3 separate regions of the Homo sapiens genome follow, and all the other regions are linked to region 1. Evidence: fine-mapped expression QTL. A gene starts in region 1. Each other region holds a variant in brackets. All regions are shown on one strand. Distances are from middle to middle. Region 1 holds the start of ZNF862 (zinc finger protein 862). Region 2 has its middle 8.3 kb from the start of ATP6V0E2. Region 3 overlaps ZNF862 (zinc finger protein 862).

What was found.
Region 2: its variant is fine-mapped to the expression of ZNF862 in whole blood (TOPMed, PIP above 0.99).
Region 3: its variant is fine-mapped to the expression of ZNF862 in blood mononuclear cells (TOPMed, PIP 0.99).

The regions. Positions count from the first base shown.
Region 1 is chr7:149,836,586-149,839,339 of GRCh38, forward strand. It overlaps ZNF862 (zinc finger protein 862), which reads left to right and starts at 1,790. Exons shown (of 8, transcript NM_001099220.3): 1 at 1,790-2,050. The coding sequence starts at 2,027. RefSeq lists a silencer at 1,866-2,325.
Region 2 is chr7:149,880,937-149,883,690 of GRCh38, forward strand. It overlaps a transcript of ACTR3C not described here. Among named protein-coding and RNA genes, the nearest start is that of ATP6V0E2, 8.3 kb to the left of the region's middle. The variant G/C (reference allele first, on the strand shown) is at 1,483.
Region 3 is chr7:149,862,274-149,865,027 of GRCh38, forward strand. It overlaps ZNF862 (zinc finger protein 862), which reads left to right. Exons shown (of 8, transcript NM_001099220.3): 7 at 1-221; 8 at 1,836-2,754. The coding sequence ends at 2,011. Among named protein-coding and RNA genes, the nearest start is that of ATP6V0E2-AS1, 10 kb to the right of the region's middle. The variant C/T (reference allele first, on the strand shown) is at 986.

The DNA of each region.
Region 1 (2,754 bases):
TTCCTTGCACTATCCCCCTTTGAATCATCAGTTTCCTTCCCATCAACACAGAAACAAGATCTTGTGACTCATATCTTAGTCCTACTGCTTTGATTCCCCATTTCCCCCTAGATACTGCTCCATTTTTCTTGGAAAGATGGAAAACCTTTTATGGAAAAATGTGTCAAAAGAATGATTTACCCTAGCTGTCCTCCAGTTTTTTAACCCCTAAAAGAGAATCTGTTATAAAGACATGGATAACTCATGGGCAGAAATATAGCTCTTCAAGGTAGTGATATAGTCGAGGTGGTGAGTGGCAGGCCACTTGGAATCCACAGAGTCCTCACTCTCTGCCTTCTCCTCCACATTTCTTGTGTCTCATTCTTTTTTTCAGTAATGCAGACTCCCCTACACTCCTCGAACGGAATTTAGGTCTATTCAACCTTGGCCAGAAGAGCAGAGCTGGATAATGGAAAACGCTTACTTGAAGCCTGTGTAACATGGTGAAACCCTGTCTCTACTAAAAATACAAAAAAATTAGTTGACCATTGTCTTAATCTCTATGTGCTTCTGTAACAAAATCCCTGGAACTAGGTAATTTATAAATTATGGATACTTATTTCTTATGATTCTGGAGGCTGGGAAATCCAAGATCAAAGCACCAGCAGTGTCTGTGTCTGGTGAGAGCCTGGTCTCTGCTTCCAGGAGGGCACCTTTTTGCTCTGTCCTCACATGGCAGAAGGCAGAGGGGCAGAAGGGCAAAGGGCCTAGCTAGTTCCCCCAGCACGCATGTGGTCACTAACACCTTCATGAAGGCACATCCCTGCCCTGGCCCCCTAAAAGTCTTTTTTTTTTTTGAGACATGGTCTTGCTCTGTCACCCAGGCTGGAGTGCAGAAGCGCCATCCCGGCTTACTGCAGCCTCGACCACCCAGGCTCAAGTGATCCTTCCACCTCACAAAATTATTTTATTTTTATAGAGATGGGATCTCTCACTGTGTTGCACAGGCTGGTCTCAAACTACTGGGCTCAAGTGATCCTCCTGTCTCAGCCTCCCAAAGAGTTGGGATTAGAGGTGTGAGCCACCGCACTTGGACAAAACTTCTTATAAGGACACTAATCCCACCATAAGGGCCTGACCCTCACGACTTCATCTAAACCTCCCAAACGCCCCATCTCCTGGGAGGGGAACACCGGTCAGTCCATTGCACCTCCTTTACCTGGCAGACCCTACCTCTTGCTTTAATTCTGCTGAGGCATCACTTCCGCAGGAAATCCTTGACTAAGCACCTCATATCCCCCACCGCTTCACTCTAAGGTGACAACGCGGGCTTTAATTCATGTTTTGTGCTTACCTCTTTCATAGCCCTTGTCTCTGTTTTGTAATTATCTGTTTCTGGTCTGATTCCCTAATAGATCGTGAGTTCCTTGAAGGCAAGGCCTTTGTCTCATTCAACTGTGTTCTCCCAAACCCTAGAACACGGCCTGACCCATGGTAGGCAACCAATGATACTTTTTGAGTGAATAGAACAAAAAGTATTGCCCTCCTTAATAAAAGAAAACCTAGAACTTCAAGGCTGACATTGGCCTTCGCGTAGCCCAATCAGAGCGCTTTGCCCTTGCTGCAGAGGACTAAAGGACGCCACGCCGCCGTTGCCTAGTAACTGTCGCCGGAGGGAGGCGGGGAGGGTCGCAAGCGCGCCGCCGGCGTCCAATCAGGACCTGCGTTCCGGGAGCCAATAGCAGCTTCGAGAGCCGCTCACCTAGAGCGGACTACACTTCCCGTCACGCCCCGCCGCCTGGGGCTGGGCAGTGACCGTAAAGCTGTTCGCTCGGTGCGACGCAAGTCTCAGCTCAGCGCGCTTATCCTGGGTCCACCGGCGCTACCGCCCCCCGACGTGAGAGAGCGAAGTTCTTGGGCCGCGCTCCCTCCCTACCTGGGTGCCCTCCCCCTCCGGGAGCCTGGGTCCCCGGGGCGGTCGCGGCGGCTGCATCCTCAGGCCAGGCCGCGGGGGGAGGGGGCGGCACGGGCCTCCGAAAGCGGGGCCATGGAGCCCAGAGAGTCGGGGAAGGTAGGACTGGAAGGCCCGGGGGCCGCCCGCTCCCTCCCGAGGATCCCCGAGCCGGGCTCGGGCGAGGCGGGGCGGCTCGGGCGGAGGCCCCGCAGATGAGCCAGGCTTGCAGGGAAGGACTCGCCGGCCCGCCCTCTCTTCCCGCACTTCGGCGCCCGACCCCGGGAGGGTGGCGGAGAGGAGCGGACGCTTCCGTTCGGTGTCCGCGCATCCTCCCCGAGCTGCCGAGCGTCCGCTGGGTCGATGCTGGGTTGGGTGACCCCCGAGTGGAGCGATGCGAAGGTGCTTCCTGTTTTCCCCACCACCTTCGGCGTTTTGAAGAGGCCCTGCTAAGGCTTGGAGTCTGGATCGGACGCCAGTGGGAGCTGCAGGGTGGGACGCTTGAGGGCTTGACCCTGCCTAGATCCTCCTTACCAAGAAAGGGCTGAAAAGAGAGGGCATCTGGCATGCTTTTTGCCACTTCTGTTTCTAGGTTATGTACTTCATGGAATATCTGGGCATTGCTTAGAAACCTGTGTCATAAATTGGCTTTGGGCAAGAGGCTTTGAGTTGGAAGAAAAGGTGGAAAGAAAGTGCTTGGGGGCGGAGTTCAGGGATTTGACGGGATTGCCAGCGCTTCCAGGCCGTGTCATCCAAGACCAGTGTGGTTGTGGGCACATTAGCTTGGAGACAGTGGCAGCCTCTTGGGACTAACATCTTTCTGG
Region 2 (2,754 bases), 44 kb after region 1:
TCAAGTGCAGCTTTGAGCACCACTCGTCTGGGCCCCAGAGGACACAGTGCAGGACTCCTGCAGTGAAGCAGGTCGCCAGAGGCTTCAAAGCCTCCTTCATGAAATAGCCTAGGGCTGGGATCTGCCAGCACATCTCGCTGCAGGTCCAGTGGGGAAGTGGGCAGAGGGAGCCCAGCCCTCCAGCCCAGCCTGTAGCCCAGGGCAGAGCTGAAAGAACTTCCCTGGAGGGACAGGAGGGTGGGGCGGGACTGGAAGACGCACAATGGAGGCACCAGAGCACTGAGGGCGGAAAGCCAGCTGAGGAGCTTGGATGGATCCCAAGGGCCATGGGAGCCGTGAAAGGGATTTAAAGCAGGGCCGTGACATGGCCAACTGGATTTCTAGCATTATCTATCTCTACAAGCTGCACAGTGGACGGCAGGCTGGTTTGACATCTTTATTAGGGCCCCTGGTGGAAGTGGTGAGGACAGAGAAGCGAGGGGGGAGCTGCTTGGCTGTGACCCATAGAGACCGAGGCTGCCCGTGGTGGGGAGTGCAGCAGGGGCAGGTCTGAGAGTGGCTGTGGGAGCTGAGGTGTTCCTTTGTTTCCTGGTGAGTCGTGTGTGTCCAGGGCACCCCGTGGAAGTGTAGGTAGTGGCTGGCTGGGCGGTGGGGCGGATGGTCAGGAGGAAGATGAGGCTGCAGGAGGCAGAGTTGGAGCCATCGGCATAAATAACCGGTGATCCCTGAGGGGTGCAGGTTGCTCAGGGGGTTCAGAGTGAGAAAAACCCAGAAGAGAACCCCAAGGAGTGTGAGTTCACGGGGTGGGTGGGTGAAGGTGGCCTGTGGAGGATGCCGGGAGGTTGCAGGTAGCCGGAAGACAACCAGGTGAGTGTCACTCAGGAGGATGAGAGGTTCAACAGGAGAGAGTGGTTGAGGTAACACAGACCCCCATTGTCCTCTACCCCCAAGAAGTCAAGGTCAGCTGGCATCTTTGGTGATGGGCAGTAAAGTCAGACTGCAGTGGGCTGGGAGCGAGTGGGCAGGTGGGGGGTGAGAAACACAGTGACCTCAGGATGGGGACCCCGTGGACCCAGTGAAGCTGGACCTGGAAAGACCAAAGGGAGCTAAACAAGGAGGGACCTACTGGGCCCATTTTCCCATGTCGCTGTGGGTCAGCCCTGGGCCTGGGGGAACCACTCTGCCAGTTCCTGCCGCTGCACCTCTGAAGCCACACCCAGCCCGCCACAGGCCCACCATGGGGGCTTCAGGTTCAGGATGCTGAAGATCCACGTTGGCCCAGGATTGGGGTGGGGGGCATGTATCCAAAATGGCTACTTCCTTGTCTCGGCTTCTGCTCTTTGGGTTCTTGCCTTCTGTGATATTGGATTGGTGGCATCTTTAGACACTCTCCCGGGATGTGTGTGGCTGTGGCTGAATTCTCACTGAGCCCCCTGGGTGGCATCCTCTGGGCCTGGGAGGTGGAGTCCTGGAGAGCTGCTC[G/C]CTGCTCTCTGGGCAGCCTCTGGACTGCTGAGGGCTGGTAGCTCCTTCCCAGGCAGGGTGGCCTTTCTCACATCTTCCATCCTTCCTTCCTGTGCAGCCATTCCGGGAGAGAGGAGAGGGTCCCAGAGCTCATGTCCACTCCACTCCCTGGCACGATCTGGTCTCCCACCCTTTGGTGAGGACCGTGTTCCTCCCAGAGGCTTTCCCTCCAGGCCCGAGGTGGGAACCTGCAGGGTAAGTAGGTCTGTCAAAGATAAACTAAGCTGGACCTTAGTTAAAGCTACGAAAACAGACCTTATTCATTAACCACTGACAGGGGAGAAGCTGAGCTCCATTCAGATCTGTGCAGGGGGACTGGACAGTTTAATGGGAGAACGTAGGAGTCGGGAAAGGGCATTCCAGGGCTCAGGAATCATGGGAGTGAAAAATTACAAAGGGCTGTCTGTGTTATTGTGGCCGGGCCAGCTGTGTGTGCCAGCTGGCAGTGATGGAAGTTAGGTTCTGGCCTCCCCCAGAGCCTGGGAGACAGGCCCCATCCTTCCTGATGATGCCATTTCAAAGGACTGGCTCTCAGGCTCTTGAGAAAGACACTCCTGGACACACATGCATGTACATCTCAAAGGGACAAGGGAAGGAGGTACGACTCTAAGTGTTTTTAACGTAAATGCTCTAAGAAAGTGAGGGGGTGGTCAGAGGCCTGTTGTCAGGTGTTGGTAGGAACAAACACTAAATGATTTTGACGGCCTTGAGCTTTTTCAGACAGGAACTCAAAGGGTGGCCAGGTGGTCCCAGGGATGCCGCTTTGGGCTGCCAGAAGCCATGCTAGGGTTGGTCCAGTCTCTTGGTGCAGGGGTTTGGACACAGTCACTATGTACCCAACTTCTGTTAGAGTTATCAGTTTCAAACCCCACCCGTGCCCCCAACACCATCCCCAATGTGGGAGGCACATCAGTAAATATCAGCCTCTGACACAGATGCTCACGGACCTACACGATGCAAAAAAGCTCTAAAAATGGGCCGTGACTGAGAGCAGGGCAGCCCTGAACCATACCAAGTGGCAGAGCAGGAAGTGGCCTTGGAGGCCACGCTGAGACAGAGGACAAAGCCACTGAGAAAAAAAAGTAAAGGTAACCAAGAAAAGTTAAGCTGCACACAAAGAGTATGGCCAACAGAGGGCAGCGCCTGCGTGCAGGATGAAGTCTCTAGCGAGCCCTCGTCCAATCTGCGCATTGCTGGGGGTGGATGGTGCCGAGGTCAGAGATGGTGGCCCTA
Region 3 (2,754 bases), 26 kb after region 1:
CTGTGAGCGGGGGTTCAAGGCCATGAACCGAATCAGGACCGATGAGAGGACCAAGCTCTCCAACGAGGTGCTCAACATGCTCATGATGACAGCTGTGAACGGCGTGGCCGTCACGGAGTACGACCCCCAGCCCGCCATCCAGCACTGGTACCTGACCTCCTCAGGCCGGCGTTTCAGCCATGTCTACACCTGTGCCCAGGTGCCAGCCCGCTCCCCTGCAAGTAAGTACACGTGGCAGAGCTCCCCCAAGGCAGCCTCATGCTGAGCCAGAGGCCAATAAGACAGGACTGCAGGTGCCTGTGGAGCTTCTGTCATGCACCCACCCATTTGCTAGGCCAGTGGGTACTCGATGCGTGACATCCACCCTCCAGGAGCTTGCACCCCTGCCAGGGAGATGACGCACATGTGCTCTAGGCAGCAGGGCTTAGTGCAGAGAGCGTGCATTTCTAGAGCCTGTCTGCCCTGGTGACAGTGCTGTGCTGGCTCTGCCCCCAACTGGCTGTGTGGCCTTGGGCAAGTCTGTCCTTTGATGCCTTGGTTTCTCATCTGCCGAATGAGTTGTGTGTGGAAAACACTCAGGACAATGCCTGGCAGGTGGTGCAAATGGTACTAGTTAAAGGTCAAGACCACTGCTGGGAGTAAGGAGAGGGCTGACCAGCCCCAGGCAGCGCCATCACATTCTAAGTGGGGCTGTATAGACTCTGGACCGTGCAGGAATTTTCAAGAGGGAAGAGGTCCATGTGGCTGTGGAGGAGGTGAGATGCGGAGGAGATGGTGGGGCTTTCAGGCAGAAATCTCACGGGGCAGGGGAGAACAGAAACAGCCTCTCTGGACCGGAGGGCTGGGGTCAAGAACTTGCTTGAGGGGGAAGCTGTATTAGAAGGGAGGGCAAGTTACTGAAAGCCACAGACAGGAAATTTTTCTCTTCAAGTAGTCACTGAAAACCAAAGAAAATATGCCCATTGTTGGGGTTCTCCAGACCACT[C/T]GCGACCACTTGACAAGGATGGAGCAGTGCTCTCTCTCCTCGCGTCTCTAGCTGGCCTCCTTCCGGCTGTTGCTGCTCCCAGTGCTCTCTCTCCTCGCGTCTCTAGCTGGCCTCCTTCCGGCTGTTGCTGCTCCCAGTTTTCACCTCTGAGTCTGTGGTCACCAGAAATGGGACTGGATCTCATGGCTGACAGAGGCTCTGTAGGAAGCAAGGTGGCCCTGAAGCCACAGTAGGGCAGGTGGGGATAAGAAAAGAGACCCCTCACTGATAAGAGAAAGGGAAAGCCGAGAGAGGGCTGGGTGAGTTGCTCTGTGTCCAGCCCTGTGGGTGCTAAGGAGAAAAAAATGATGTCAGGTGTGCCCTGATGCGAGTTACTCTTTCCACAGGGACAACAGGACCAGCACAGATTGGTCCAAACACTGCCAAACTACGCACCGCTGCCTCCTTCCAGGCAGGGCTCTCAGCCTTGGCATTGTTGATGCTGGGGCTGGGTAATCTCTGTTGGGGGCCCTTCCTGTTCACTGTGGGAACTTGAGCAGCATCCATGGCCTCTACCTATTAGATAACCACTGGATACCAGTAGCACACACCCCATTTGTGACCACAAAAATCATCTCCAGACATTGGCAAATGGCCCCTGGGGGACAAAATCGCCCCCAGTTGAGATCCCCTATCTCAGGATAAAAGAATGAACAGAGTAGCAACAGATGAGGGCTGCAAAGAGCAGTCGTGGTCCTGACTTCAGTCTGTTCTGCCAAGCTTTCCTCACCAAACAGCCCCTGGGCGAAGCTGGATGTGGAAGGCGGTCACTGTCAGTCAGTCTAATTGTATTCTCCTTCCTCCCTCACAGGCGCCAGGCTCAGGAAGGAGGAGATGGGAGCCCTCTATGTGGAGGAGCCCAGGACCCAGAAGCCACCCATCCTGCCCTCCAGGGAAGCAGCGGAGGTTCTGAAGGACTGCATCATGGAGCCTCCCGAGAGACTCCTGTATCCCCACACCAGCCAGGAGGCCCCCGGGATGTCCTGAGGGACAGGGAGTCCTTGGGACTGCCTTGGAGACGCCTCTGTGATCACTGGGACAGGCTCTGCAGATTCTAGGCTGCCCTAGGATCTTCTGCTGGTGGCGATGGTCTCTAAGCACCAGGAAGTGGGCAGTGGCATCCCAGAGCAGCAGGGGTATCAGGAGGTGCATGACCTGTTTCCTGAGGCCCCACTCAGCACAGCCATGCCTCACAGCACACAAATGTGCCAGAAGGTTCTATATCTCAAGTTCATTTTTAAGGTGCTGCAGAAAATAACCCCATCATGAAAGGTTTCAGCCCCTGAGTTTTGGTGGCAAGAGGAGTGTCCTGGTAGGGGAGACTGTTGGACATCCCTGGGGAATGTTCCAGGGAGGCTGCCCACAGTCTAAGTGGGAATGGGAAAGACCACCTTGTTAGAGGGGGAGGTTGCCCCTGCTCTAGGGACAGCTGGCCTGGCTGCAAGAGCCCCCAGAGGCATTGTTCTGGGACTTCCTACCCTGGCTCCCACAGCAGAAGCAGTGAGGCCGTGGTCTCGTGCGGAACTCTACCTCTTCCCAGGGCTTCCTTTAGGGCGAAACAATCACAAGCCCTTTGCACAGAGCACCCAAGAAAGTTCTCTTCCTGCAGCTCCAGATGGTGGAGCTGGGCTCTTCTGGCAGGGGGTCTGGTGCTTCCCGGAGAGCCGAGCCGCGTTTAACCCGTGGCATGCCCGGCCCGGTTTACCCAGGAGAGGATGGGACGAAGTTGG